6 separate regions of the Homo sapiens genome follow, and regions 2, 3, 4, 5 and 6 are each reported to be linked to region 1. Evidence: microRNA targets listed by miRTarBase, many of them from high-throughput screens and not tested one by one. Region 1 holds a microRNA gene; each other region holds the end of a gene's coding sequence. Distances are between the middles of the regions.
The links. The annotated mature microRNA hsa-miR-6734-3p reads CCCUUCCCUCACUCUUCUCUCAG and lies in region 1 at 2,578-2,600, opposite strand. An mRNA with a match to its seed (bases 2 to 7 or 8) in the 3' UTR can be bound and repressed. Matches are read on the target gene's strand: a 7mer-m8 pairs with bases 2 to 8, a 7mer-A1 pairs with bases 2 to 7 and ends in A, and an 8mer does both.

Region 1 (4,319 bases):
TGGACTATGATCATTCAACTCTGAGTCTGGAGCATGTGGCAGGGTGCCTAACACTAGAATGGGCTCAGTTCTGATTTAAGTAGCCTTGGCTATATGTCATGCCCACACCAGCTCCTCTCCACAGGTGTGCTCCATCCTCTGGTCTCCCCATTACAAGGAGCTCATCTCAGGCCATGGCTTTGCACAGAACCAGCTAGTTATTTGGAAGTACCCAACCATGGCCAAGGTGGCTGAACTCAAAGGTAAGTGGCTAGGTGAAAAGCCGGACATAAAAGGCCACATAATGTATGACTGAAATGTCCAGAATAAGCAAATCCAGAGAAAAAACACATTAATGGTTGCCAGGGGCTGAGAGAGGGTAATGGGAAATGTTGAAAATGTCTTAGAATTAGTTTTAACAGTTGTACAATTTTGTGAATATACTAAAAATCACTAAACTGTACACTTTAAAAGGATGCATTTTATGGTGTGTGAATTATATCTCAGTAACACCATTGAAAAAAAAGGGAGGAGGCCAGGCACGGTGGCTCACGCCTGTAATCCCAGCACTTTGGGAGGCTGAGGCGGGCAGATCATGAGGTCAGGAGATAGAGACAATCCTGGCTAACATGGTGAAGCCCTGTCTCTACTAAAAAACACAAAAAATTAGCCAGGCGTGGTGGCAAGCACCTGTAGTCCCAGCTACTCGGGAGGCTGAGGCAGGAAAATGGCATGAACCCAGGAGGCGGAGCTTGCAGTGAGCCAAGATTGCGCCACTGCACTCCAGCCTGGGTGACAGAGCAAGTCTCAAAAAAAACAAAAAGGTAGGTGGGTGGCCCAGTGCCTCCTTTATGGCTATGGCTGCATCAGCATTCGTATGTACTGTTCTCATTTGCTCCAGGTCACACATCCCGGGTCCTGAGTCTGACCATGAGCCCAGATGGGGCCACAGTGGCATCCGCAGCAGCAGATGAGACCCTGAGGCTATGGCGCTGTTTTGAGTTGGACCCTGCGCGGCGGCGGGAGCGGGAGAAGGCCAGTGCAGCCAAAAGCAGCCTCATCCACCAAGGCATCCGCTGAAGACCAACCCATCACCTCAGTTGTTTTTTATTTTTCTAATAAAGTCATGTCTCCCTTCATGTTTTTTTTTTAAATCTGTTTCAGCTAATGCCTTTCTTCTTTCATGACCTATGTCCCAGCAGCCTTCCTAGGGGCTCTACTCTACTGGGATCAGAGAGCTAGATATGTCCTGTGGGAGCCTGGACCATCCATCCCTCTTGTTTGTGGACAGGGCTAAGCGTGTTGTGTTCCCCCACCTCCTCTGTTCACATACGTATACACACAGCCTCCGTGGTTTCCTCTGTCACTTTTAATTAAGACACAAGTTGAGTAAGCAGCCTCCACAGGCTGTATTCCCAGGCCCCCGCCCACCCTGACCTTTGGCCCAGAAGCTACTGCTTCAGTGTGTGGGGTGGAGGAGTGAGACTGGGTCCACAGTGACATTATTGCTGACCTCTTCTGTGTGAGGAAAAAGGCCACGAGACCCTTTGTGGGGCCAGCCCTGAGTGCTCCTCTCCCAAGTTTTAAGGCAGGGAGGGGGAAATAACTGTACAGCCCTTTTAGCCCCCAGCTCTGGAGTGGCAGACAGCAATGAGGCCACATCCCTGGAGCTGCCCGGGGGAAGTGGGTGAGGAACCAAAGCCGTGGTCCCTGTAGAGCAGCTGTGGGGAGGGGAGGGCCAGTCCCCTGCTCAGTCCTGACCACATAAGCCTTGGTCACAGGTGTAGGTGGAGAGGGCACTGACGGACACTGCCCTAAGGTGCAGTCCTGAGGCACTTAGGTGGGCGCCTATCTAGGCCATGCTTCTCAGTTGGCCTTGACCTTGGCAATACCTGGAGCTCCATTTTGCTGAAGTGCACGGGGCAGCCGCTTGCCCTTGGTATAAGAGTGATACCAGAAGTTGGAGAACAGCATGAAGAAGATGGTGCCATACATCCAGATGAGGTGAATAATGACTGGGTACTGGTAGTTACAGCTGGACATAAAGTAGTACTGGGAGATGTGCAGTGAGACCAGGACAAACTGGATCTAGGATAGAGAAAGACCAGGGTCAGAGGGAATAGTGAGAGGACTAGAGGGGAAGAGGGGGTAGAGAAAGAGACAAACGTTGAGTAGGGAGAGATGGGGTCAAAGGTGAGACAGACTGGATAAAGGCAGGATCCAGGCTAGGAATGTGGGGGGATGGTTATAGGTAAGTCAGGCCAAGCCCCTCACCAGCTGAATGGCTGTCATGTGCTTTTTCCACCAAAGGTAGGGTTGTGCCACAGGGCCAAAGGCAGATAATCCGTAGTACAGGTACATTATGACATGCACGGAAGAGTTTATCATGGCATGGAAAGAGCCCATTCCTCCTGTGAGTGGACAATAAGACAGGGTCAGCAGAGTCCAGCCTCTGGTGCCCACCCTTTCCCATAGTGGCCTTCACCACTCACCCGGGGCAATCTTTACCCCCCACCACCAGCTCCAGGGAAGCACAGAGTGATGGAAGACATGTAGGAAGGTCACCTGCCCGTCTTTCTTTCGGAGAATAAAGATCACCTGAGAGAAGAGTGAGGGAAGGGGATTCAGAACCTGGGCTTCTCCACCTCATTCTCCCCTCAAGTTCTCACATCTCATATAACTACTCACTGTGTCCATCAGCTCAATGAACTTGGAGAAGAGGAAGAGCCAGGCCACCCGAACCATCTGCAAGAAGTTGGGATAGCCTTAGGACCTCATACACTATTCTAAGAGCCTCCCTAAACTGGGCCTTGAGCACAGGCCCCAAACTGGTCATATCTACCAGGTTGCTTATGACCTAGCCCCAGCCCCTACTTACCCTAAGTGCCTCAGGGCTGTTGGAATAGTCCACAGGGTCACAGCGCCAGGTATAGGTGCTCAGCCAGCCCGACATCAGGAACTGGGAAGGGATGTGGATTAGACCACCAGAGTTCTCCCTTCCCAGCCATCCCTCCCCTTCGCTAGCTGAGGACATGGATCTGAACCTCTCTGGAAAGGAGAAATGCCATGCTCTGGCTCTATGGCCTGCTCCTTATCCTGCTGACAGAAATTAAAGCCCGGCATCCCAGGGGCCCACCTCATAGACAATGTAGAGGGAGAGTGCCACCAGTGAGAAGTTGTAGACAATCATGAAGCCACGGAGCTGGAAGGGCTTCCGATTAGCCATGATGCGAGGCCCAAGTGAGAGAACGAAGTACACGTAGGTCAGGAGAATGGAGGTCATTAGCAAGGGGGACCCCATCAGAGGGTAGCCCTGGATCCGGGGATCTATGAATAAGGGTCAAAGGAATCAGGAAGAGTCACAGGGTTCGAAGGGTCTTCATTTGAAGGGTCTACAGACATGAGGTCAGGTCACAGGATCAAGGGTTTCATAGGAACTCTCCATTAGAAGACAGCCGTAGATCCAGGGATCCCGGGAAAGAAGGAAGGAAAGGGCTGGTGGATAGCGTCTTACCTGCGTGCTTCATCACCTCTTGGTACAAGTTCACAACAGCCTCCATCCTGGCTAAGGACTCTGGGGAGGTACAGAGGGCGGATGTCAGACAGATCCCACTGCACACCCCCATCCCACAGAGATAAGACACAGAACCAGACAAGACACCTGCAATGCCTCATTGCAGAAAGGACAGAACAGTGAAAGGAAGGAATTACTGGGAACTAGGGGGAGGAGGCAGTTTGGTTGAGGCATCTGCTCCCCACACATCCTGCTTGCCTGGGAAGAGCTGTTCCACCCTTCCTCTCCACACCTTACTCTCCTCTCCTCTCCACAGTTTTACTTCCTGGCCTCCCTTCCCCTCTTCCTCCACAAGATAACTCTCAATTCCAGGTCTCTTACTGGAGAATCTTACCTTCTCACCAACAGGGAGCTCTTGAACTCCGTCTCCCTTCCTCACCCGAGTCCCTCACCTCCCCAGCTCTGGGTCTTTCTTCTCTCCAGGGATTCTCCCCTTCAATCTCTCCTCTCCTGCCCTCTCCTCTTCCCATCCCTCTGGACCCTTCCTGAACTCTCTTCTCCCCAGGGTCCCTCCTGTCCCTGCCAGGACTCTCACCTCTCTGGGCCCTTCTGTCCCTCCAGAACCTTATCCTCGGATTCCTCCTTGCCTGTGCTGGGACACTTATGTCCCTACGATTCTCCTCTGCCTTTCCTGGGACTCTCACCTCCAGCCTCTCCTCTCCAGCGCTCTCCTCTCTCCTCTCGCAGAGCCCTTCCTCTCCTGGAGCCTGGCTCTTTGAGACTCCTGCCCCGGCGGCTCCACCTGTCTGACTAGATCTGGCAGCAG
Region 2 (4,175 bases), not on the chromosome of region 1:
GAAGGCTATGGGGCTGTGGTGCTGCCTGCCACTCCAGGTAACCGCTCGTCTCTGCCCTTCTGTGGCCCACATGCCCTAGGCCCTAAGAACAAGACTAACACTCGAATGCTTCTGGTGAGGGGTGGAGATAATTGGGAATTGGAAATGTTTGGCTTGAAAGAGTTCCTGTTCCTCTGAGGACTTTCTGCCCCCCTCCATTAGCGACAATGACGTGGCCTTGGCACTGACTTCCTGACAGTCTCTCCATGTGCTTCATGCTCCTCTGATTGGACTCAGGGTGAGAAGCTGTATGGCAAAATTGGCTCATAGCATATGTGTATTGAATGAATCAGCATTCAGTTTGGAATAAAAGCATCTGTCTTTTACTGTGTGCCAGGCATTGTGCCATACTTCTCACTTAATTCTCCCAGTCACTCTGTGAGGTGCAGGTGGTATTATTTCCATTTTACTAGATGAGGAGAATGAGCTTCAGAGAGGTTAAGAAACCTGTCCTGGGTATGCAGGTAATAACTGGCAGAGCGGAAATTTGAATTTCTCCCTGATTGATTTCCATACAGGTGCTATGGGTAACCATGATAACCTGCACCAGAGGCCAGGTCATCACCAGACCAGGTGTTTTAGCTGAGTCTAGGCCTGTGTCATTGCTGGGGAGTCAGTGAGGGGCCACATGCCCTTTCTGGACCTGGCCCCAGTCTTCTCTTCCCTTGCGCAGGCTCACACACCCTGACAGTCTCCACGTGGAGACCTGTGGAGCTTGGCACGGTGGCTGAGCTGAGGAGGTTTTTCATTGGCGGTTCTCTGGAACTGGAGGACCTCTCCTATGTACGGATACCAGGATCCTTCAAGGTGACTTTTGTCTTTGGAGTGACTTCACGCTGAGAACTTATGGTCCTGTCCTTCTGTAGGAGGTGGGATCTGGGTCAAGACCCCTTAGTTGTGCATTGCTTCAGTATTAACCCCTTCCTTCCTGTGGCTTAAGCTGGAAGTCATGACCACATTTTGAATCAGGTTCCAATATCTACACTGCTATCGTAGGAGGTCTCTGGAAAATAGTATAATTAGAGATTTCCCCTGGTTCCCATCAGAATAACTGGCTCTTTCCCCCATCACTGAAGGCCTCAGTAATCAGATGTGGGGAGGATTCACAGTAAGCATATAAGACCGCCGCTTCTCAAATGAGGTTGGAATGTTCCCTGGTTTAGTTGGGGGAGCCCAATAGCCCAGTATTAGCCTTGAGGTAATAGAGTCTGGGTGATGGAATAAGGTTTCCCCAACAGAACTGCGCTTCCCAAGAATGGGAATAAGAATGGGGGTGAGGCCAGCATGGTGCGGGGGTGTCTAGAGAGAGCAGAAACCTGAGGCTGTCCCAATGGCATGCCACAGGGGGAACGCCTGAGCCGCTTTGGACTCCGCACAGAGACCACAGGCACTGTCACCTTCCGCTTGCACTGTCTGCAGCAGTCCAGGTGAGTGACTTGGCCCTCTGCCTCAGGGCACCTTAGCCCTGAGGGGTGGAGACAGCCGTAACCATGTGGCTGGCCTCCCTGCAGGGCCTTCATGGAATCGAGCTCCCTTCAGAAAAGGATGCGGAGTGTGTTGGACCGTCTGGAAGGGTTCAGCCAGCAGAGTTCCATTCACAATGTGCTAGGTATGTCCCCTCCCCCAGCTGGCCACCCCAGGTCAGCATGGGCCTGTTTCTCTCTGCAGTGCAGAGAGAAATACCATATGGCAGCCAAATAGCATATCTCCTTTCCTTACAGAGGCCTTCCGTCGAGCCCGGCGCCGCATGCAGGAGGCCCGGGAAAGCCTCCCGCAGGACCTAGTGAGCCCCTCTGGAACCCTGGTCTCCTAGCTCACAGCAGCCCTGGCCCACAGTGCAAGAGGACAAGATGGGGGATATCTGAGGCCAGTGCTCTCCTGCCTCTTCGTCTTTCTGATTAGAGACCACGTTGGTCTGCTGAGAACCAGAAAAGCTGGGAAATTCCCGGCTGGCCCCTCTGCCTAGCCTTCTGCAGGGTCTTCTCCCTACCCTGTGGAAATAAAGCCAGAGACCCTGTGGCCCCCCCTTTATATTTGCAGCCACTGTCAATGGGCATCACAGCAAGGCAGGCTTTTTGATCTGAAGCTGTTTGGGGTGACCCCATAGTGAGTCTGGCCTTGACTCACTTTTCTGGCTTGTCTCACAGTAGCAGGGGATCTGCTGTTCTCCACCCTTTAAAAATGGAGCCTTTCATCTTCCAAGACCAAAGAAGGAAGGAAGGTGGACGGTGAGAGGGTCTTAAATCCCCAGCCTGTGAGTCTCAGCCTCTTTCCAGGGAAGCCTCATTCTACTGCTTGGGGCTTGCTGAGGTTGAGATATGAGTTATTTCTGAGTAAGTGAAGGCTGAAGGCAGTGCTGAGTCCTTTCTGCTAGCTGGGTGGTATCTTTTACTGTGTTTTTTTGTTTGTTTGTTTTTTTGTTTTTTGTTACATAAACCCCTTTTATTTTGACTGATGTTCTGTTGGCTGTTTGTCTGCTCAGGTTGCTGGTATGGCTAGGGTGTTCTTAATGTCGGGGCCCCTACCATGTCTGCCCTTCCCCTTTTCTGCCTTTCCCTACTCCACAGTGTTTCTTTGGGCTCTCCTAATTCAGCCCCCAGGAGAGGCTTAGATGGTTGTGCCAGCTTGCGTGTTAACAGCACTTCTCTTAAACATCTGGAGCAAAGCATGGAACTGAGGCCACGTCTTCCCTAGCCCAACACAGAAACAGCAGCCCCTGCCCTTAGCAGTGCTTTATTGGTAGAAGCAGAGCATGCTGCCTGGCCTCAGGCTCAGAGGAGTATTGTGGGGTGTCTGGAGGCTAGGACCGAGTGGTCTCTTAGTCATGGTGAGGGAGGGGAGGGAGGGCTGGGAAACAGTAGAAAGTGCTGTAAACCCTCCAGCTGACTTTTCTTGCCTGGGGTGCAAGACCACATGGCTTGGCTCCCAAGCCTTTGCACGTGGCGCTGATTCATAGCCTAATACCTAAGAGGCTCCCAAGGCGGGAAGGTCCATTGCTGATAGGAGCCCCCAGCCTTCACTCCTGGCTGGGGAACCCAGCTCTGAGCTGTAGCCAGCAGAAGCGTCAGCAGCCTGCACTTGCTCCAGGGAGACAAGGCAGCCTCATGGTCCTCCCCTTCCCCTTGTCTCCAAAAGTTGGAGACTTGGGATAGACTCCTGTGGAAGTAACAGAACTGGATAAGTCAGGAATTTACTGGATGTTTAGAAATGGAGCTGTTTTCAGGTATTAGTGACCAAGCTGAGGATAGTTGGATGCTCCTAATTTCCCCCCAAAGTCCTAGGGCCTGGAATTGACTGTCAGCCCAGAAACTAGCACATTGGGAAGCCACTTGGAAAGAGTACCTAGTGACAAGTTCTGTTTTCTCTGCTTAGAGACCTAAGAGGACTCAGCCATCCATCCAGGGAAGGATGTGAGGGCTTAACCCAGCCCAGGGTGCTGGAGGTGGCCTCCCCTTACCTGCAGAAGCCTCATGTCCCTCGCCAGGCTGATAGGTTCAACCTGGGGATACGGCTGCAGTTCACAAAGCCCCGAGGGTAGATGTTGGCTCTGAAGATGTCCCTTGAAACCGTGGTGATACCGGTATTGTCACATATAATTCGAGACAAGGAAATTCTGCTCAGGGCCTTGCGCTGTCTTTTGGTGAAAACACCTCGTTTCTGCCACCAGAACCTACCAGGCAGTCGAGAGATGTGGGTGAAGGCTGGGGAGGAATTACCTTATAATGAGCACCTGTTGTGTGCCAGGTACTTTACATATATTATTCCATTCAATTCTCACAAAATTCCTGCAAGATTGGAATCTCAGAAATGAAACAAATTCAGTGGCCAAATAAATTGCCCAGTATTAAGTGCACAGTAATTTAAGTGGCCAGGGCTGGATTTGAACTCGGGCAATACCAACTCCAAATAAGGAGACAGGTCTTTTTTTTTTTTTTTTTTTTTTTTTTTTTTTTTTTTTTTGAGACGGAGTCTCGCTCTGTCGCCCAGGCTGGAGTGCAGTGGCAGGATCTCGGCTCACTGCAAGCTCCGCCTCCCGGGTTCACGCCATTCTCCTGCCTCAGCCTCCCAAGTAGCCGGGACTACAGGCGCCCGCCACTACGCCCGGCTAATTTTTTGTATTTTTAGTAGAGACGGGG
Region 3 (5,217 bases), 160 Mb from region 1:
TCACTTAGCCACCCTTGGCCTTGTATGTTCCTGTGGGGTCGGCCTTAGACTTCCCTGAAGAGTTCTTCTGCATCTTAATATCTTACAGGCTCAGGAAAGAGGAGCAGTAATAAGTCCAGTCTCGGGTTAATCCATCATATTCTAGGCCTTGTGCTTAAGTCTTGACCTGCAGAATGTCAAGTCTCCTGCACCCAAGCCTGTGAGCCAGTGCCATGTCATCTCCATTCCTCCTGGAAGATGAGGAGATTGGGCTGAGAGCAGCTGGAACCCTGTCCAAGGTGAGTGGCAGCACTGGGGTTTGAGCCTAGGTCTGCTGGCTCCTTAATATTGGGATCCAGACTTGACTTAAGGGCCCTGGCTTTGAAAGGGAAATTGAACCTGCCATGAAGATCCCTCCAGGTGCCCAGGCTGCAGCTCCCCTCCTCTCCCACCCTGTGGCCCCAAGTCTTTCCTCCTCCCTTCCCTCCCTCCATAGCTCAGAACCACTCCAGAGTAACCTGTGCTGGCAGGGGTTAAGTCACCTCCTGCTGGCCTGTGCTGTCTGCCTGCTTTGCTGTTTGCCAGGGCTGCACCTGTTGTAGCCCTACAGTTTTGATGAGGTTGGCAGGGAGTGCCAGCTCTGCACGGGCATGGTAAACATGCCACCTGCCTGCTCAGTGCTGCTGGAGCAGTAACGTGCCAACTTCAACATGAATTCTTAGCTACTCCCTCTGTAGTGGACCCAGGCTGAGGGGAGCATACCAGCCTGGCTGAGACCTCCGGACCCTCAGGTGAGGGGCTGGGACCTGCATGACAGATGCTCTGGGAAGGACCTGCCTGTTGGCCCTGCATTCTGAAGAACGGTCCCCAGCAAAGGAGGCCAGGTTGAAGTGGGGGCAATGCACTCCCTTTTTTCCTTCTTTTTTTTTGTTTTTTTATTTGAGACAGAGTTTCACTCTTGTCGCCCAGGCTGGAGTGCAATGGCACACTCTTGGCTCACTGCAACCTCCGCCTCCCAGGTTCAAGTGATTCTCCTGCCTCAGCATCCCAAGTAGCTGGGATTATAGGCATGTGCCACCACGCCCGGCTAATTTTGTATTTTAAGTAGAGATGGGGTTTCACCATGTTGGTCAGGCTGGTCTCGAACTTCTGACCTCCGGTGATCCACCCACCTTGGCCTCCCAAAGTGTTGGGATTACAGGCGTAAGCCATCATGCCGGGCCGCACCCCCTTTTTTCTAAAGGGCGAGAAGGCTCAAACACAAACAAGGAAGCATCAGTGACCATCAGAGTCCCAGACAGGCAGGGCTTTATTAGACACGTTGTCATGATAAGGCAAACACAGGCTGGTGTTCTGTCCTTTTTGCAGATGACCCTGTGTAGCTGGGGCTGGTCTTCCCCCACCTCCTCTGTTCGCTGTCAGTCTCAGGATCAGCTGAGCATGGCCGCCACCCTCCCTCCCTTTTTCCTCCTCCCTTTCAGTGTGGGCTGTTGTTGGCAGTGACATTTAATTCAGGGAAGGCACCTGACCTTGGGGAGGAATGTGGGAAATGTCTGCAGCCTGGGGCAGCCACCCCCCACCTGGGGCCCAGGAATGTGGGCTCTAGGACACCTGTGGCCCCCAAGGGAGGTGAGTGTAGGGTCCAGGAATGACACTGTTGGAAGGCCCCGGCAAGGTCACCTAGTGAAACTCTTACATTGTGCAGAGGGTGAGGATGAGCCACCAATGCCACCCCCCGTGGCACCAGCACAGCCTTCTCTCCAATCTGGTGACAGCACTGTCTCTGACTCTTGTTGTCTCCTCAAGCCTGAGGCCACAAGTACAGCGGCAACTTCTGATTTGTCAGACCCACAGAACTGCAGAATGTCCAAGCCCTTCGAAGTGAGCTGCTGCACATCCTCTACCGCTGATGTGGAGACTGAGGTGCAGAGAGATGTGAGTTGGCTGCCATCTACTCACTATGGGCCAGGACCCAGGTCTCTGGGGTGGGTGCATTTCCCACCATCCCTCCTGTTCCAGATGCTGGAAGTCAGCATCTTTTCATCCCAGCAGGGAGATTCAGGTGGCCTCTCCTAAACCCCCACAGGGTTACTGCTGGGAGTGCAGTGCCATCTAGGGTGCCCATCTGTGTGAACTGCCGGGAGTGGGTGCTGCAGCCACAGAGGGCCTGGTCACTACACTCAAGCCCATGCTCCAGCACCTGGAGAGCAGGTGCTCTGTGCTCTGGCTGACGGCTCTGAGAAAACCAAGCTAACTCCAGCAGCTGCCTTCTTTGGGGCTGCACCGGGAGAAAGTGTTAGCGTAAGGACTCTGCTGCCCTCTCGTGGCCTCACTTGGGTATGGCTGCTGCCATTCAGGCCGCTGGTGGCTCACCTGCTCCGAGCTATGGAAATCTCTCTCCTAATTGCCTTTGCCTGGACTCTAAGAGGCCTGGATGGGGTGGATATCATCCCTTCTATCATACCGCTTAGGCCATGCCTTGTTCCTTGTCGGATTCTGGAGGAAGAGGGCCTCAGGTCAACAGGAGAGGCCTAGCCTGTGTTACCCAGAATGCTTGGGTGTGGGGAGAGACGTGGTGGTTCCCACAGACACAACCTAATCAACCAACACCAGACAGGATGGTTTGAAAATTTAGAGGATATTTATTTCTCAGGAAGGTGCACAACAGCTGGCAGGCACTGCTTTCCCTGCTCTAGGGGATTCCTCTCTCCTTTTCCAAGAAATCCCCTCTCTTCTTAGAAGTGCCCATGGGAGGCTGGGATGTGAAAAGAAACCATACACAACACTCCAGAGCCTTAAAAAAATAAAGCAACAACCTCCTCCACACGAATACACTTACAAAATAAATAGACGGATAAAAGAGAGGCCACGTGCCTCCCATCCCGGCTGTAGGGCTGCTTGGGGATAGTGGGGCTGGGTGGCTCGGTCCCACTTCTCCCAGCCAGGATGATCCAAAGGCTAAATGGAATGGAAGGGCCCTGGCTTCAGAGAGAGGATGGGGCAGGACCTCTCCTGGTACTCAGCAGGGAAGACACTGGGGGCACGGGTAGGGAACAAAGGAACAAATAAATAAATAAATAGAACCCAACAGCACTCTCAGAGGCCTAAGGGCTTAGGGTGAGGCTCAGGGGGGCCCTGGGGCCTGTTTCCCTGAAAATAACAGATCCAGTACAGGCAGAAAGAACAGAAGGGAAAACACAGGCCACACCCACCTGGCCTGCAGAGCCCAGCCCCAGAAGGAGGCCTCAAATCAGCTCTACAGGGAGGAGGGGTGGGGTGGGGATGCTGAGCTCCACACTAGCTGCTCTGAGCCTGCTCTCTGGCCCTGGAGGTGCCCGAAGGCTAGGGACCCTCCCATCCCTGTGTTCTCTGCGGCCAGCAGAGCCTCCTCCCTCACTCTCCAGCCTTCATCCTCACCATCTCCACCAGAGAAAACCGTAGCTATCTCCGAGGTGGGCTCTTTCCTAGGAAAGTTGAGGCAGAGCCCTCTCCTCCTATTCTTAATGGTCTTCCTGACTTGGGGCATCCTGAGGGTCAGCTGGGAGAAGTCCTTGTGTAACTATAAATAATCAAAACAATCCAACCCCATGTCCACCTCTGCTCCACTTGGCCACAGGTGCCCGCACTATCTCCAGGTAGGGCTGCATTCTAAGCTCCCTTCAGGCCAACAGGGAGAAGGTGTCAGACAGAAGCAAGTACAGAGAAGGGGGCAGGAGCTGCTGGAATGGACAGTTTGGGCAGGAGGCCAAACTGGACACACAAAGAAGTCCAAGGGTCCCTCCTGGAGAAGTGTGGCCAGCTGGGGGCCAGAGAGCACAGGGTTGGTGTGGCTGGCCACTCAGCTGGGCAGCAACACGTGCTCCAGGAGGTAGGTGAGGGAGTCCCAGTGCTTCCAGAGGAGGAACAGGACGAGGACCAGGAGGGTGGTGCTGGTGATGCGCAGGCGTGTCTTCATGAGGGGCGTGATGAAGTTGGCGATGGTGGACACGAACACCAGCAGCACGGCCATGAGCGCCAGGATCACGTTGATGAACTTGCCCAGCAGCGCCCGCGCGTTGGCATTCTCCACGCCCTCCAGCTGTACCACCTGCTGCTGTTGCTGCTGCAGCTCCAGCTTGGTGACCCGGGTCAGGCAGGACTCCACGGCCTCCTGCAGGGGCAGAGGGGCTGGCATGTGTGCGCTCAGGATGGGCAGGACCCCTAGGCTGAAAACCTACCTACCCCACTGAGAAGGTGCCTATAACGAAGTCTCCTCTCCAAAGGCCAGGAGGAGTGGAGGTTGACCAGCTGCAACTGGGGTCAGAGACCTTTAAGGATGACTCTTTGGGGAGGATGCTAGGAAATGAGAGTCTTGATTACTAGGGAAGGAAAAGAGCTGGCCCAATCCCAGCTGGCTCCCTCTTGAGGCAGGCTGGAGCCTGGAAACTCCAAATACTCATTTGCGAAGCTGCCATCAAAGAGGTGGGGGGCATGGTGGCCTCTGCCCTGTGGGCTTGCCTCTGCACAGTGCACGCTGTCAGCCTCAGGCCTGTCTTGCTCACTCCACTCCGCTCCCGCTACGCTGCCCTCTTCATCCATGTGCCTATCGGCCCCGGCCAACAGGCCAGCCTGTGTCTATCATGCCCCACGTGACAAGAACCCTAACCCTCTGGCTGCTGCCAGCTCTACCAGCACATCTGGGGCCTCCCAAGGTTGCCCTGGCCATACCTGGATGTCCCGTGCCCTCTCATAGGACTGGTAGGCCACCTTCTCCTCCATGCTGGCCAGCTCCTGCTTCAGGTTCGTCATCTCGTTCTGATGAAGCTCAGTCAGGTCGTTGAGCTGCTCCTCCAGCCGCTCGTACCTGGCGGAGGGAGAGAGAGTGACACCAGTCCTGGCTCCCCGAGCTTCCACTCTCTCCCACAGTTGATTCATTCATTCTCTCAATAAACAATGACTCAGCCCATCCCCCGTGTCCAGCTCTGCTCTGTTCTAATTTTAACAGCAACAACAATAGAAGCTACTATTTACACAGCACTTCTTAGGTGTAGGCACTGTGCTAAGCATTTTACCTACATGACCTCATAGGATCCTCCCCACAATCCCATGAGATAGGTGCCAGTGTCATCTCCATTTTACAGAGGAGAAGACTGAGGCGTGGAGGCTGAGGAGCCTGCCTAGGATCACGCAGCTCATGAATGGAGGAGTTAAGGATTGGCTGACTTCAACCTGGGCTCTTAAGCCCTAGGCTCAGATGCT
Region 4 (5,084 bases), not on the chromosome of region 1:
AACTCTATCAAAACACACAAAGGCCTAGAGGAGAGATTACAATGAACGTAAATAATTCAAGGCAATTTTTGATCTAAAGCATTTTGCTTAGCTCTACAAAGGCATGAATGAGGTGTGGTCACGTTTTTGTATAGGAGGTTTTGCCACTACTTGCTCCCAAGTTAAACATGGCCACAGAGTATTGTGAATGTTTAATGTATGCCTGGGAAAAATTTATTGGCCAATACTTTAGTTACTAATGGGAGGATTATGTATAGTCGGACCATAAAGCGTGTAAAAGCAGATCACTTAGAGCCGCTCTGTCCAGGACAGCAGCACTAGATGCATGGGCCCTTTGAGCACCTGAAATAAGGTTAGCATGACTAAGGAACTGGGTTTTATTTTTTCAAACTTGATGTTCAATTCAGTTACTGAAAAACTTTACTATGTTTAACTATCTTTGGAACAACTTGGATATGAATTTGTGTTTTTCAACTGCATATTTTACAAAATCTAAATACAGATCAAGTATTCCTGATGAAACGTTAGCATCCAAATTATGCTATAACCAGATACACAGTGAGTTTTGAATTCTTAGTGTGAAGAATAATTTTAGATCTCACTAATAATTTGCATATATTGAGTACATATTGAAATATTTTGGATATGCTGAGTTAAATAAAATATGTTATAATTTCACTTTTTAAATATGGTTGCTAGAAAATTGAAAATGACACTCTGGGCTTATTTTTTTTTTTTTAATTTTGAGACGGAGTTTCACTCGTTGCCCAGGCTGAAGTGCAATGGCGCAATCTCAGCTCACGGCAACCTCCACCTCCCAGGCTCCAGCGATTCTCCTGCCTCAGCCTCCCAAGTAGCTGGGATTACAGGCATGCGCCACAGATTTATTTTTTATTTCTGTTGGAGTGTGCTGTTTTAAGAGTATGGAGCTGACATTTAAGAATTCTAATGCCATCTGCTGGATACACTGGTACAAGACAGGCCCGTGTCACAGTAAGACTGTGATGGTGTGTCAATACTCAAAGAACTGGATCTGAAACAGAAAAGGGCTCACAAAACACTGAACTAAATTATACTGTTAAGAGGGGATTATAAATAGGTTTATTTAGTTTTTGAAATCCCAGAGAAAATGTGACTCACAGTTATCTTCAGATAACAGTGACCATGAGCCAACGAGCATAACTGCTTCGCCGTCCACCCGGGTGCTGCAGGCATGGATGTGGTCACCTGGGATGGACCCTTTGTGATGCTGGCTCCCACACCTACAGCTCTTCCTGCTGCCTGCCTTGTCTCTGTCTCCCTTCTCCTTTCTACTCCACAGTCAGCCTCAAGTCCTTCTGCTCTGGGTTACACACACATCCTCTTTCCATCTTTCTTTGTCTATTCATTGTTTTTTTTTTTTTTTTTGAGACACAGCCTTGCTCTTGTTGCCCAGGCTAGAGTGCAGTGGCGCGATCTTGGCTTACTGCAAGCTCCGCCTCCTGGGTTCATGCCATTCTCCTGCCTCAGCCTCCTGAGTAGCTGGGACCACAGGCACCTGCCACCACGCCTGGCTAATTTTTTGTATTTTTAGTAGAGACAGGGTTTCACCGTGTTAGCCAGGATGGTCTCGATCTCCTGACCTCGTGATCCGCCCGCCTTGGCCTCCCAAAGTGCTGGGATTACAGGCGTGAGCCACCGTGCCCAGCTGTTTTCTTTCTACCCTTTCTTTTTTCTATTTTTCCTATGATTCTAGCATGTCTAATAATTCTATTTTTCTTTTTAGTATTCCAATTTTTCTTTTTGTCTCCTCCCTCTTTATCCTACAAGCTGTTTCAGTAGGTTTTGTAGTTTTAGCTCTTACATTTAGGTCTTTGATTCATCGTGAGTTGATTTTTTGTATGTGGTGTGAGGCAGAAGTCCAAACCCATTCTTTTGCATGGAATATTCACTTGTCCCAGAACCATTTGTTGAAAAGACTGCTCTTTCCCCACTGGATGGTCCTGGCACCACTGTCAAAAATCAATTGACCACGGATATATGTTTTATTTCTGGACTCTCGCCTCTATTCCACTGATCTATGTGTCTATTCTTATGCCACTACCACACTGTGTAGATTATCGTAGCTTTGTGGTCAATCTTGAAATCAGGAAGTGTGAGTCCTCTTTGTTTTTTCTCTAGATTGTTTTGACTATTCTGGGTTCCTTGCATTTCCATGTGAATTTTAAGATTAGCTTGTCAATTTCTGCAAAAAAGGCAGCTGGGTTAGTTGGTTTTTATGTGTATTTATTAAAAAAAGCAATTACCCGATTAGGCTGACAGAATGATTAGGCTGACCATTAAAAGGACTGGCAACTTTATCCTCAGAGTTTAGAGGTAAGTTTGTAAGAATTCAGGATGTTTGTCTAAGATTGCTTGATACTAGGGCAACAAGACTGAGAGCAGAGGGCACTAAAAAGACTGTCTAGGGGTTAGACATCAATTGTGTTTAAGTCTGAGATCTGCCCCTTAGGTACCATATGACCCTGCACAAGTCATCGACCCCTCCACACTCCAGTGTGTCATCTGTAATGAGGATGGGGCACTCCCTTCCACACTGCAGCACTGCGGGAACCGAGACAATGCCATCGCAGAGGACCTGCAGGGGACAGGCTACTTCACTCACTCCTCTCCTTCCCACTCTTCAGAGAACAAGGACTTGTGCTACTGTATTCTCACAGCACTCACTGGCCTGGGAACCAGCTGTGGGAGCCCTATGGGCCTGGTCATCAACTCTCAACTGCTTGTGTGCAGCTGTAGGAACCCTCTGAGGTGTGGCAGGTAGAGGATGGGGTGGGTGCCCAGGCACACTGCTGACTTTCTGGAGCCCTGCCCACCCCCAACCCTCTCCTTATTACTAATGACACGGGAACCCACCTGCTCCACTGTGCAGCCCCAAGTCTGATCCAAGTCAGGCTCCTGAATGTGAGGAAGCCGAGCATGGGGGCGACAGGGAGGTGGGATGCACTGAAAAGCTCTAACCATTGCCGCTAAGGCACATCAGTCTCTGACCAGGTCCAGCAGCCTCCACGTACGTCCCAGTCCTTCAACACACATTTACTGAATGCCCACTGCACACAGGAGTGTAGGTAATAGCATGGTATGACAGTAAAATTAAGTAAACAACTCCCACTTCTACCTTTCTGGACTACGAAGAGCTCCTCCTGGTCTTCCTTATCATTTCCTATGTGATTACTTCCGGGTCCTCTTGGAGAACAGAGCATTTTGCCTCCCATGCAGTTTTCCACTGCTTGACAGGGAGAAATTCCTCGTGACCTATGGTCCATCGGCTGATCTGGAAGCTGAACCCTTGGAATAAAGACACCTGCATGCTCGGATTTGCAAAAGGAATGGAAAAGAACCCTTAAATATGAGTAAGTCGTGGGAGTAGATATGAAACAGGGTTATAAGCACATCTCAGTGTCTAATTTTACAGAATAAATACTTCTATTCTATCGCAGCTCACATGTAAATCCAGGTAGGTATGTCCCTATCCCACTTAGAATAAAATGAACAGCCAAGTGGCCAAAGTTTCCATAACTTTCCTCCTTGCTGACAAATCCAACCCGAAGTCTGTGCCTCCTAGGGAAAGGACAGGACAAAGGTACAATTCAGTTCCTAAAGTTATTTCTCCCTCTGGGAGAGAAAGGCACTGTCAAAGTACAAACCCAAGTCAGCGTGCTTTGAAAGATCATGTCACTTGTTTGTAATAGGAAATCATGTCATCCAGAGTTTTGAAAGTAACTGTGGGGGCTTGTGGTGGGTTGTCGGGGGCAGGAGTGGGTGACGTATGTTCAGGGCTAGGTCCGTGGCTCTGGTCAGGGCACTGCCCTGGGTCACTCTGTGCTGGCCCAGGTCTGCTCCATGCCTGGCTGCTGGAAAAACCAGTTCTCTTCTGACCCACAAAGTAATCTGACGGCGGGGCAAACTCAGGATCTCTCTCAGCCCGGAGATCTGACTGCCTCTTCGACCAGTATCCAAAGGAAAATTCTGGTAAAAATAAGAAAGAAAGTTATTAGAACTGATTAACGAATCAGTTGAATTTATTGTTACTATTATCTAATTGTATCATATATTTCTTAAAAGCCACCACAAATTATCCAAAGAATAAGAATGGCAACAGCAAAACTATATTACAAGGTATAAGTAATACCTACAACGAGTATAAAAGACCAGGCTAAGAAAAGGGAGTGACTATCTCTAGATGGGGAAATACAGAAAAAGAGAAATACAGACAAATTATCTGCTTGACATGACATTGTAGGTATTTCATACCAAAATACAAATTTTGTCCGTTATTGAGTTTTGGAAGACACAAAAGGGAACTGTCCAACCTTGTCTGGTATTTCATCTCTATTTCTAACAGTGGCTCTTGCATTTCTCTTACTTTAGCTTTGGATCTTATCAGCTCAGACAGCATGGGCTAATGTTCTACTGAAATGATCTTTTTCAAAGAGGCATAAACCATAGTCTTCCAGAGAGGCTGCTGTGGACACTCTGGAGAATTTACAGAAAAAATGTCCAGGGAAATTCCCCAATGGAACCATGTGTGAATCCAGGTTAGTACACTGGCATGTAGACCATTTTCAACTGAACATAAAAGAGGCTGCTAAAAACAGAGCATATGAGAACACCAAACTTTCATAATACTTTAAAGGCAGGTCCTGAGAAATGGCATTCCAAAGCTGTAAAACCACACAAGGCAGCACGAAGTTAAAACTTACCCCAAGTGCTTCTAGAAAAAAAACCATTTTCCATTCACTGGAGAGTTCTTACACCTCAGAGCCCACCTCCCTTACCTTTTCCGCGGTCCCACTCCCGGATGTGTGGCACTCCAGGCTTGGTGTCCTTCCTCTCCTGGACAATGACTTCTACTTTGCTACTCTGGGCAGCAGGACGTGGGGTTGGCACAGCCTCTGGCTCCGGTGGCAAAGGCCCAATAACATCTCCATCTATTTTTTGTAAAAGAATAAGACACTGTTATAAAAAAGCCTAAAGCTATTTTTAAAAATACAGAACATGCTAATCCTGAAAGTAAAAGTAACCATCAGTATTTATGAAGTACC
Region 5 (5,093 bases), 170 Mb from region 1:
TGCTTTTAACCTTTGCTTTCCTAAAGAAAGTTTGAGATCCAGAGAGTTCAAGGGATTGGGGAAAGAGAGGCGTCAAGTCATTTGCACTTTGTACCTGTAAGTTAGGTAATAAACTATTATACTCGTACTTCTGTGCCTGAAGGTTTTGTGGTAGGTATACTGAGATGTATAAGCTGTACTGTTGCCTTTACTAAACTATTTCATTGCCCTTTGCAGCCATTTTTACTTAGGGGTGATGCTAAAAGATGAGTGAATTGAGATATGTCAAAATAGAGTGATAGAGTGTTTTTAATATAGAGTCTGCAGATTGTGAAAGAAGGGTGAAAGAACGATAAATAGGTTCAGTAGAATAAATATATAATAAGAGGACCAAAAAAAAAAATCACACCATCTTACTTTTTTTTTTTTTGAGACTGAGTCTTGCACTGTTGCCCAGGCTGGAGTACATTGGCGGGATCTCAGCTCACTGCAACCTCCGCCTCCCAAGTTCAAGCGATTCTTCTGCTTCAGCCTCCCAAATACCTGGGATTACAGGCGCCCGCCACCATGCCCGGCTAATTTTTTGTATTTTTAGTAGAGACAGGGTTTCACCATGTTGGTCAGGCTGGTCTCGAACTCCTGACCTCAGGTGATCCACCCGCCTTGGCCTCCCATAGTGCCGGGATTACAGGCTTGAGCCACTGAGCCCGGCCACATCTTACATATTTAGAAGAAAAACAATCCTTAAGTTTCCAGGATGGTTTTATTAAAGTCCCATGCTGTGTTAGAAACATACAAGTGATGAGAAAAACATTAACTTGAAACATGCACTTACTGGCATTCTCTAAAATACCATTATACAAGTTTTCATTTAATTAGAAAAATACCCACTAAAACAATCACAGTTCTTCTTAAAGATTTAAAAAAAATGTATTGGCCAGAACAAAGTCCAAGAGAATAAACAAAGTTCTGAATTGTATGTCAAAAAAACTGTACAAGGTTGTACATAAAACTATAGCTTACAAAAGACTCAGGTATAGTAAGAATTCTGAATTAAGATTTCCAAAGTTCTATTTACCAATATCTATTAATAAAATCCTTATGAAATAATTGACTTAGAAAAAGTGAAATGCTCATGATTTCAGAGTGTATAGAAAATACTAAATATCTCCGAAATAAAGTGTACTCAAAACAGCACAACATACAGTCTAAAATCAAGATTTCTGTCATTCATTTAAACTTTGCATATATTGCCATGATGGCTTAAACATAAAATTTCTCTTGCACTAACAACTTTTTAAAACCGATTTCAAATCACTTCATAGTTTTATTTTTTATATTTTGAATTCTAGCCAGTCTTAAAATCAGCTTTGGGAGGGGGGTGCATATAACATGTTTTTTGTTTTGTTTTGTTTTTTGTTTTTTAAATTATTGCACTAGAATTTAGGGGTTTGGTGCCTCTCCCGTATTTTTTTTAGAAATTAGCATATTCCATAGGCAATAAAAGTAGGATGACAACTAAGAACATTTTAAATGTACTTTCAAGTTTGTGTGACTAAACCTTGCTTTGGGAAAATTAGTCTAAAAATCAAGGAGCGGGTGTGGGAGAAATTAGCTTACTAATTGAACCATCAAGCCAGTTGGCAGTTCTAAGGCTTCTTTATCAGCATATTACAGAGTTTGTATTCCTGTTCTTTTCCTCCTTGTTGTGGGAAACAAGCTATGCAACCATTTGACATTCTGTATTTTAGATGTAACAGTACTTAATACTTGGCAAAAATAAATTCCAACTCTTAGAATGGTTGCAGTGTTATAAGAGGTCTACTTATTAGATGTAAGCAAGTTTCAGATTGACAAACAGAAGGTATATGGCTAAGTCAGTATTGTTTTAGAATGAAAATGAAATGATTCACTATTTCAAACATCTGAATACATGTGGCCAAGAGGCTGCGAATGGGTTTGCTGTGTGTAGATAAACAGAGCTAACTCATTTTAAACTCTGATAATACTGTTCTTAAAGAGATTAAACTGATAATTTTTAACCCTGTGCTACATTTTAATCTAATGGAGATGTATACTTGGTCTTGTTCATCTAAAGGACATTCGACTTCTTTAAGAAAACAGTACTTTTCATTAATAATACTGATTTTCAGGGTGAAGTAAGCTCTTGTGCACCCTTTTGCTTTGAAGTCCTTTTGCTTTCCCTGTCACCCCCAGAAATCTTGTAAAGAATTGGTAAAGAATCTCAATGAGCTTTTTTTTTTTTTAACTTCCTTCCTATAAACACCTTCAGTCAAAGAAAGCCAGAGGAGATGCACTGAGACTGAAATAACATCTGTTGACTACCAGACTTCACTGAAATCGGCCGTCTGCTCTCCTGAGTTGGCATTGTTGCTAAGATAAAGCAAATGAAATTGAAGCTGTACTCTTGATATTTACACCATACAAGACTAGGCTGTTAGGGTTGTCCTGTGTGGTCTGCAGCCAGAGGTTACACTGTAACTACCATATGCAGGCCAGACATTCATTCTGTGCTTAGGGACTGAATTACACTATAAGGTGTAACACTGGACCGAAGACTTTTCCATTAAAAAAAAAGTGCTGCTTTTCTAATTCTTTATATTTTCCAATACTCATTCCTAAAATGTCATGAAATGGTACCTAAAAGCAAAGTACTGGAAGATAATCACATCATGTCACATTTGGTCTTAATATAAGACATCAGAACACATCTTTAACAGTGAGTCCTCCCTTAGTTTGATTCTTGGCATCCTTCAGAAGAATCAAAGCCTGCCTCAGTTTAAAAATCAGATGAAATGTGAACAGAAAGGTTTTTTGGTTCTGAAGACCTGCTGATCACTCCTGGTCTCTGCCTGAGTGTGTTAATGTCAGAGGTAAATCCAGTACCGCTAAATTTGTATAATAGTACGTGACCTCTTGTGCTTTTTGTTAGAGTCTGCAAAGTTTAAATGTTAGTGACAGAACATAGACTAGCTTCTCAATGTGATATTTTTGTTTCATTTTGAAAAAACAAAAACATCAGTGAATGCTTTAAGAAAGATTAAGAAGGAAGTAACTCCAAGATCCTGAAAATGGTTCTTGTATTGCCAGAAGAATTTCAGTGCTTTTTAGTAAAACACTTGCATATAGTACCTTAAATCTCCTCACGTGTGTGCACCAGGAAAAAACTCCAAACTTGTGGAGATCCCCATGGGAAATACTGGGGAAAGAATACAAATAGAATATAAAAAAACAAAACGCCATTAAGTTTGCATATCTGATGTCAAAATGCTGAGGTAATAACTGCTTAAAAAAAACCCACCCATTTTTGCTTTCTGTTATTGCTGAAAAAGACAGTAATACTGTTAGAGTTACCTTACTATACCAAAAGTTCAAGAGATTATTTCATGAACATTTACTATTGGTGAGGCATAATGTTCAAAGCAAGTAAAAGAAAGTAGGTAAATGGAAAAATATAAAACTTCAGTTACGGTTATCCTTAAGATCTTGAGTGAGGGACATAGTCCAACCCCAGTGGGGCTTATTACTTCAGCCTTTTCATGGTGCCTTTTAGTGAATTTTTTAAAGCTAATGGTTACCACCCACTCAGATTCTATTTCCAGGTGAATCCTTAAAAATAAAATTCACAAGTTCTTAATAAATAGTTGCAGTTCCTCCTGAAGATGCTGGGTAAAGTGCAGAGAGAAGCACCACAGAAACCCTCTTGCTGGCCGGTATGGCTTGGCTAAATTCGGATTTGATAGCCCACTTCATTCAGAGTGCTCAGATCAGCCACCTTCTTTTCAGGCAGTGCAGGCCTAAGGGTAAAAGACAGAAATATGGTGGAGGAGAGGGGATGGGGCAAAGAAAGACAACAGCATTTTCAAGGTCCTCTACTCGGTTTTCCTAATCCTTCTGATATTTGTCTCATCCTCCCATTCCCCCACCCTGCCAGCCTTAGCTCACAACTCTACTTCTTGTTCTTAAGTCCACCTTTAAAGGTTTTAAGGAACATTTTAACAGACTTTCAATGTAGAGTTCAGAAAAGTTTTCAGGGTGTGGAATGAGCTTCTGCAGCTTTAAGCCTGACTTTGGTCACATTATAGCTTTTGAAACCCAGTACTCTTGAACCTTGCAAGGGTCTAAAAGTCACATACACTACAGTAGAGCCAAGAATCTGAGTCAAATTCTCCTTGAAACATTGGCTTCCTAGTGTTCGTGTCCTGGAGGAAGCCCAGGAATCAAAGGTGACTCACGTTCCCAGGGAGCGGTTAATGTTCAGGCTTGAATGTATAAAATCAAGGTGAATCTTAGGATTCATCTGAAAAAGCATGTCAGTGTGGAAAATCACTCAGTGGCAAAACATCTCTTCCCTAGAAACGTGCTAAAGTCACTTCCAACATAAAACTACAACTAAGCAATTATGCAAAGTCATGTGAGAAAGTACTTCAAGCTGGGAAATACAACATTCACATCAATAGCACATCATCTGTCTTCATTAAAGATGCGTCCTAAATGACTTCCAATATACGATTATGCCTAAACAATCTCACAATGTATCTTACAACTTTTCCATTTCTTAATGAGCCTCTTCTCACCTTGGATAAGAGAGAACTGAGATCATGAATCAAGTTTAGGATATTCAGTATGGCTAGTGAGTTCTAATTCAAAAGTTTCACATCCATTTTTGCAAGAAAAAGACATGTTTAGGTTACACATAAACCTTGTTTTTGTTTTGTTTTTGTTTTTGTTTTTGAGACGGAGTTTCGCCCTTGTTGCCCAGGCTAGAGTGCCGTGGCACAATCTTGGCTCACTGCAACCTCTGCCTCCCCAGTTCAAGTGATTCTCCTGCCTCACCCTCCTGAGTAGCTGGGATTACAGGCATGTGCCACCACACCTGGCCAATTTTGTATTTTTGTAGACATGGGGTTTCACCATGTTGGTCAGGCTGGTCTCGAACTCCTGACCTCAGGTGATCTGCCTGCCTCGGTCTCCCAAAGTGCTGGGATTACAGGTGTGAGCCACCGCACCCAGCCGAACCTTGTTCTTAAGTATTAAAAAAAAAAAAAAAGACCAAAAAGAAAATATAATTGTTAGAAGGTTTCTTATTTTAT
Region 6 (5,217 bases), not on the chromosome of region 1:
TGAGTCTAAAACCTAAATTTCTAATCACGGCCCTTCAGAGATTAAAGGAGCATATCATGGAATGGCTAGAAGGGAGGAAGCAGCTGACTCGAGGGCGGACTGTACAGAGCAGGTGATGGAAAATAGAAGATACCAGTGGGAGAATGGAGCTACCAGTGATCAGATGAATTCAGAAGGGTGAGGGGACTTGAGGGATGAGGTGATACTAGAGGGCTCACTGATGACCCCACAATCCCAGCAACAGGAAAAGCACACAGATGAGCCAGGGGAAGGAACGGTAAAGCCTTGCAGCCTTCCAGCTCTCCAGGGCAGGCTCTCCACATCTGATTGCCCCAGTGCATCTGCAGGCTACCACCTGTCCATTTGCTGCACCAGAAGTTTGCGTGAAGGTTCTGCCTTGTCTACACTGCTCCTTGCTTCCAATAATCCTAAAGGTATACATTTCTGGTGATAGGATTTTCTATTAAAATCATATTTTCCAGTAAGTATGTCCTTTAAACCAGGAGAGGAAAAAAAGGCCTTAGACCTTTAAAAATCTTTTGATAATGTGGCCACATGTGCTCCCTTCTGTGTTACAGGGTAGTTTTCTGTGTTAGCAGTCAGGGTGAGGCAGGGGGAGTCCTTGGGCCTGGTACTTATCTCCATACCAATTTCTTGTCTGTAAGATAAGGACAAGCTACCACTCGCCTCAAGGGAGTCTTGTGGACACCACACTGAAGGCAGAGCTAGAAAAATCCATGGTGGTGTCTGTGCCACCAATAAATTCTGAAAAAATGTTCCTGCCCACATGCACCATGCCTTAGCAAAATGCAGAAGTGGAGGCGGGGCGGGGGGGTGCTGTGGCTCCCAGGAACCTCTATGGCCTTAGAGCTGCCCCACCTGGAACATGGTCAACACTGAGGCTTCCAGGCTGGGACCAGGGCTGGGCTGAAGCAGGGGTCAGCTGGCCGCAGACCCTTGGCCCCATGATGTGGCCTTCCTCAGCAAGCAAGAAGCACCAGCTGCAAGACACTGAGGCCCTAGGACAGTGCTGGCCAGTTACCCAAGGTGATGAGGAGGGATGCTTTTTTTTTCTTTTCTGAGACAGGATCTCACTCTGTCACCCAGGCTGCAGTGGTATGATCACGGCTCACTGCAGCCTCGTGCTCTTGGGATCAAGCAATCCTCCTACCTTAGCCTCCTGACTGAGACTATAGGCATGCACTGACATGCCGGGCTAATTTTTAAATTTTTCGAGAGACATGGTCTATGTTGCCTAGGCTGGTCTTAAACTCCTAGGCTCAAGTAACCCTCCTGCCTCTGCCTCCCAAAGCACTGGGATTACAGGCAGGAGCCACTGCATGAGGCCAGTGATAAGAAGGTATCTTTGCCATGTACCTACTTGGGGACCAATTTCCAGGTCACTGGTCAGGTGAGGGCTGGCAACTGAAGTATTTCACACAGACCTAAGCAGGCAGCTGTGGCCACCATGAAATCAAGAAGTCAACTCCAAGTTCCCAGTCCCTCTGTCTCCTTCCCTCACTCTCTTTTCCCTCTGCTTCCCTGCCCTCTTTGCTCATTGGCCTTGGTGAGCATCCATGCCACAGGGGTTAAGAGGGACCTCTGAAATAAGAATAGTGGGTCTCTCCACACCCACACACCAAAAGATGACAGGACACACAGGAAACGATCCTTTTCTAAATCAATACAATTTCTCAAATTTATTTTTTTCTTAAAGAAGTACTTCTAATCTCTGTCAAAAGGGAGGTGAGGAAAGGTCCTTCCTCCCTTGTAAACACTGAAATACAGATCTGGGAAACCAGGATCAACACACACAAAAAGTGCATTTTACAAAATATCAACTAAAATATATTTTACATGGATTATGCTTCCATTGAAATTCTACCAGCTGCATTTTCAGGTTCGAAAAAATATTTCCACATCTAAGAGATTTCAAAAGCATTTAAGTTCGGGGCAGCCAAGACCCTACCTCCTGGGAGGAGGGCCTTCATCTCCTTTCCTGCTAGGTGAGGCTGGGCTCCTTGGCAGCAAGGGCCCAGAATGAGCAGGCTCCAAGGCTGGCTCTGCAGAGCCCCCACTGCCACTCTGCCAACCTCATTTACTGCCCCATCCTCCCAGACAGACACCTTCCTCCAAACAGCTTATTCAATATAAGGAGATCCAAGTCCCTTCCCTTCAGGTTTGGGATCAGGCTTCCCAAGCATAAATTCACCTCTGAAGCCTCCAGGCCTCACCCAAACCCAATGACCAATCAGGAGCAACTCATCTACTAAGGGACAGGGCATGGCAAGTTGGGGGAGCCCTCAGGGTTCATTTCCACCTCCCTCTGCAGCCCCTGCCCAGCTGTCCTCACCCAGTGCCACCTCCTAAGCCTGCTGGGTTCATCTGCCCTTCCTCCCTAAGGGAAGACCCAGGGCTGCAGTTCTCAGCCCCAGCCCCTGCCCCCAGGGGTATGCCCTTGTGGAAGTGCTCAGCTAGCAGGTTCCCAGCACCAGGCCCAAGCCACACTGCACTCCACTCCCTCTCCCACCATACTCCTCTTTGGTACAGATAGGAAATAACCAGGCTGCTCCAGCCCCCTCACAGAGTCTCAGGGCCAGGGCCAAGGCCTAGTCTCCACAAGGACAACAGGGGACTGAGCCTGTTAGTCTACTCTGGGGAGCAGCATGAGGTGAGAACAGGGCCTCTGGGCAACAGGAACAAACTGAAAATGCAAGTCCTTAGCTCCTAGAGCAAGTGGCTGCAGCTCAGCAGGTCCGTGGACTGATACAGTGTTGATTCTTGCTAGGATGTAAATTAGTGCAATCTACAAAAGACTAGGGAAAGGGTGGCAGGGCAAGGGGAGCCACAGCACTCCTTTGGTTTGATTTCAGGTGGGTGTGGCTTGAAGAATCACGTGTGAAGTTCTGCAAGAGGTTTCCTGGAACCTCCATGTGTAAGGCAAGAGGAAAAATCTTCAACAAATCAGGTAGCAATTTTCCTTGCCCCCTGCCCCCAACCCTCTCCCAGCACCCATCTTCCCTCCCAGATATGACAAACCCCACAATCATCAGTTAACTTTCTGGGAAGCCAGACCCGCTGGGTGGCCGTCTCTGGGAGGTGGACAGGAGACTCCCACAAGTGGGCCACACCCATGACTGTGAGAGGTGGGTCAACTTGTCCCAGCACCAGTTGCTACTGCAGGGCAAAGGAGGAAAGCCAGAGAAAAGGCCTCAAGTCTAGGAAGAGGAAGTCAATGCTCTGGAAGCCAGACTCTGGCTCTCTATGCCTCAAAGGAACAAGCTCAGAGCTGTGCTGGGATCTAGGAAAGCCTGGTCCCAGGCTGAAGGGGAAGCGGCGGGTCACAGTGGGTGAGGTAAAGCTGGCCCCCACTCCCCCTTTGAGGGCAAGGGGGAGGCTACAGAAGGGCCTGTTGGGTCTGGTTCCTGAAAGACCTTGCCCCTCCTTCCCGCCCCCACCCTCCTAGGGCCCCATTTCCCTCAGGCTTGGCCCAGCCTCAGAGAAGACTACTTTTCGGAAATCTCCACCCAGGGGAACCACAGAAGGTACCTTGGGCCAAGCTGAGAGTTCTGATGCTTTTCTTATACCCTGGCCTCCCCAGCTCCCTCCCCTGGAGCCCAGAACCCACAGGGGCCCCTGCCCTCCCCCCCAAGAAAACCACAGGCCAGCAAACTTAGGCCTCTGTGGCCCCCTAACCAAGTGCTGTGCTTCAAGCAGTGCCCCCTACCCCGAGCCCCACTTGCCCATGGGTAGCCCCAGCATGGGCATGAGGAGGCTACTGGGGGTTCTTAAGGATGCGCCCGTGGCGGAAGTCATAGACATGGCGGCAAAGGAACACCAGCTCAGGGTCCGTGTCCTCTGGCACTGTGCGGTGGGGTGGGGTGGAATAGTCTGCAGAGGGGGGAACCAGTGCTGTCTTTCGGCTGGGGAGGCCTTCACCTCGGCGCTTGGCCATGGCACAGAACCTGTAGAGAGATACCATTCACTGTCTTTACTCCAGCCACTTTTGCAGGAAGACCAATTCCTTCCCTACCCTACCCTACCCGACCCAGAGAGCTAGGCTATCCTAGCTCCCCAAGGGGTGGTACTGTCTCCACCCATCCCAGGGATGATGTCTGCTCTGCCAACCACCAGGCTATCTTCTCTGTCACTGGAGAACCACACTTGCCAGGGCCTCTCTCCATTTGCCTGCCAATTCGCCTAAATTTTTTCCAAGAGCAGTAATGTTACCCCCCAACTCTGCTCCAACCATTCTACCTCAGTGTGGCAACACAATTTTTCTTCTTTCTTCCAAAAAATATCAGATGGTAGAGGCAAGCAATAGGGAAGTAAGTTCTGGGAGATTAGGCTCAGTGAGTAAGATCAGGTAGAGAGCAGAATGAGATCCTCTCGGGGAATTCCAAGCAGCCCCAAATATGCCTGGGGAGCCTGAGGGAAGAGGCCAGCCAGAGGGTGCAGGGAACCACCTACCTGCAGTACTCGGCAAAAGTCAGCACATAGCACTTCTCCTCAATGCAGGCCACACTGTTCTGGTCCTGATGTCGCGATGCAAACACTTCATTCTGCAAGGGCTCAAAGGGAGACAGGTGGAGGTTGTTACCAGGGCTGGAAAGCACCTCATTCCCAGAGCAAGGCAGACATTAACCCCTCTGCTGGGCCTGCTGACCTGAGATGACTCCAGCAAGCTTCCCTGGAAATTCAGCCTAAGTATGCCTCACCTACTGCCTCCAGGCATTCCTCCTGAGTCCCTTCTAGGTCCCCCCCTTCTCCAGAATAGCCAGGTATCTGCTCTAGCCCCTGATTGTCACTGACCTCCCAAACCCCAGCCCTGCCTAGCGTAGGAGAGGGGAAATGTTCTTCATCTTTCCAGTTAGATGGAAAGTCCCTGCAAGGGAAAGTGAAATAAAAGGTGAGCCCAGGGCACACACAGATGGCAGTCACCTCTTTTAGCACACAGCTTGGTGGAGAGCCTATGGGGTGTTAGGAGGAGTCTTTCCTCCCCTCCCCTCCCCTACTACAGAAAATACCAAAAGTGACCAGGTATGCAGCTCCACCTCACCTTTCCTGTTTCCAGGGGAACACATCCACTTGCTCCCATTGGCACCTGCTACCTCAAGGGTTCCCTTTCTGTTCCTCTTTTTAAGACAAAGGTTATTATTCCCTTTGAAACATGAATTGGGGCAGTGTTGGGAAAAGAGAATAAATCCTGGGCCCTTT

Region 2: the mRNA of EPX is a reported target of hsa-miR-6734-3p. Seed matches in the 3' UTR shown: 7mer-m8 at 3,154-3,160.
Region 3: the mRNA of TMCC2 is a reported target of hsa-miR-6734-3p. The part of its 3' UTR that is shown has no 7-base or 8-base seed match.
Region 4: the mRNA of CCDC174 is a reported target of hsa-miR-6734-3p. Seed matches in the 3' UTR shown: 8mer at 2,650-2,657.
Region 5: miRTarBase lists VASH2 as a target of hsa-miR-6734-3p. Seed matches in the 3' UTR shown: 7mer-A1 at 2,251-2,257.
Region 6: miRTarBase lists BAHD1 as a target of hsa-miR-6734-3p. Seed matches in the 3' UTR shown: 8mer at 3,443-3,450, 7mer-m8 at 2,168-2,174 and 7mer-A1 at 1,758-1,764.

Annotation. Positions count from the first base shown.
Region 1 is chr1:43,362,071-43,366,389 of GRCh38, forward strand. MIR6734 (microRNA 6734) reads right to left here and starts at 2,645; the gene lies at 2,578-2,645. CDC20 (cell division cycle 20) reads left to right here. Exons shown (of 11, transcript NM_001255.3): 10 at 125-242; 11 at 881-1,133. The coding sequence ends at 1,059. ELOVL1 (ELOVL fatty acid elongase 1) reads right to left here. Exons shown (of 8, transcript NM_022821.4): 2 at 3,494-3,553; 3 at 3,116-3,306; 4 at 2,858-2,938; 5 at 2,668-2,724; 6 at 2,472-2,577; 7 at 2,254-2,390; 8 at 1,331-2,067. The coding sequence starts at 3,539. The coding sequence ends at 1,846. RefSeq lists a silencer at 4,241-4,319.
Region 2 is chr17:58,203,756-58,207,930 of GRCh38, reverse strand. It overlaps EPX (eosinophil peroxidase), which reads right to left. Exons shown (of 13, transcript NM_000502.6): 12 at 3,497-3,709; 13 at 2,757-3,195. The coding sequence ends at 3,508. MKS1 (MKS transition zone complex subunit 1) reads left to right here. Exons shown (of 18, transcript NM_017777.4): 14 at 1-37; 15 at 713-846; 16 at 1,384-1,466; 17 at 1,551-1,648; 18 at 1,761-2,490. The coding sequence ends at 1,852. Among named protein-coding and RNA genes, the nearest start is that of EPX, 13 kb to the right of the region's middle.
Region 3 is chr1:205,270,725-205,275,941 of GRCh38, reverse strand. It overlaps TMCC2 (transmembrane and coiled-coil domain family 2), which reads right to left. Exons shown (of 5, transcript NM_014858.4): 4 at 4,687-4,822; 5 at 2,599-4,129. The coding sequence ends at 3,818. Among named protein-coding and RNA genes, the nearest start is that of TMCC2-AS1, 36 kb to the right of the region's middle. RefSeq lists enhancers at 1-109, 718-1,300, 1,301-1,882, 4,085-4,229, a silencer at 2,127-2,421 and a cis regulatory region at 4,157.
Region 4 is chr3:14,669,820-14,674,903 of GRCh38, reverse strand. It overlaps CCDC174 (coiled-coil domain containing 174), which reads right to left. Exons shown (of 11, transcript NM_016474.5): 10 at 4,818-4,970; 11 at 2,249-4,008. The coding sequence ends at 3,710. Among named protein-coding and RNA genes, the nearest start is that of C3orf20, 2.8 kb to the left of the region's middle. RefSeq lists enhancers at 1,202-1,251, 2,577-2,786, 2,721-3,920.
Region 5 is chr1:212,987,216-212,992,308 of GRCh38, reverse strand. It overlaps VASH2 (vasohibin 2), which reads right to left. Exons shown (of 8, transcript NM_001301056.2): 8 at 724-3,797. The coding sequence ends at 3,725. It overlaps ANGEL2 (angel homolog 2), which reads left to right. Exons shown (of 9, transcript NM_144567.5): 9 at 1-127. Among named protein-coding and RNA genes, the nearest start is that of ANGEL2, 26 kb to the left of the region's middle.
Region 6 is chr15:40,464,689-40,469,905 of GRCh38, reverse strand. It overlaps BAHD1 (bromo adjacent homology domain containing 1), which reads right to left. Exons shown (of 7, transcript NM_014952.5): 6 at 4,471-4,571; 7 at 1,670-3,965. The coding sequence ends at 3,776. Among named protein-coding and RNA genes, the nearest start is that of CHST14, 3.7 kb to the left of the region's middle. RefSeq lists an enhancer at 5,195-5,217.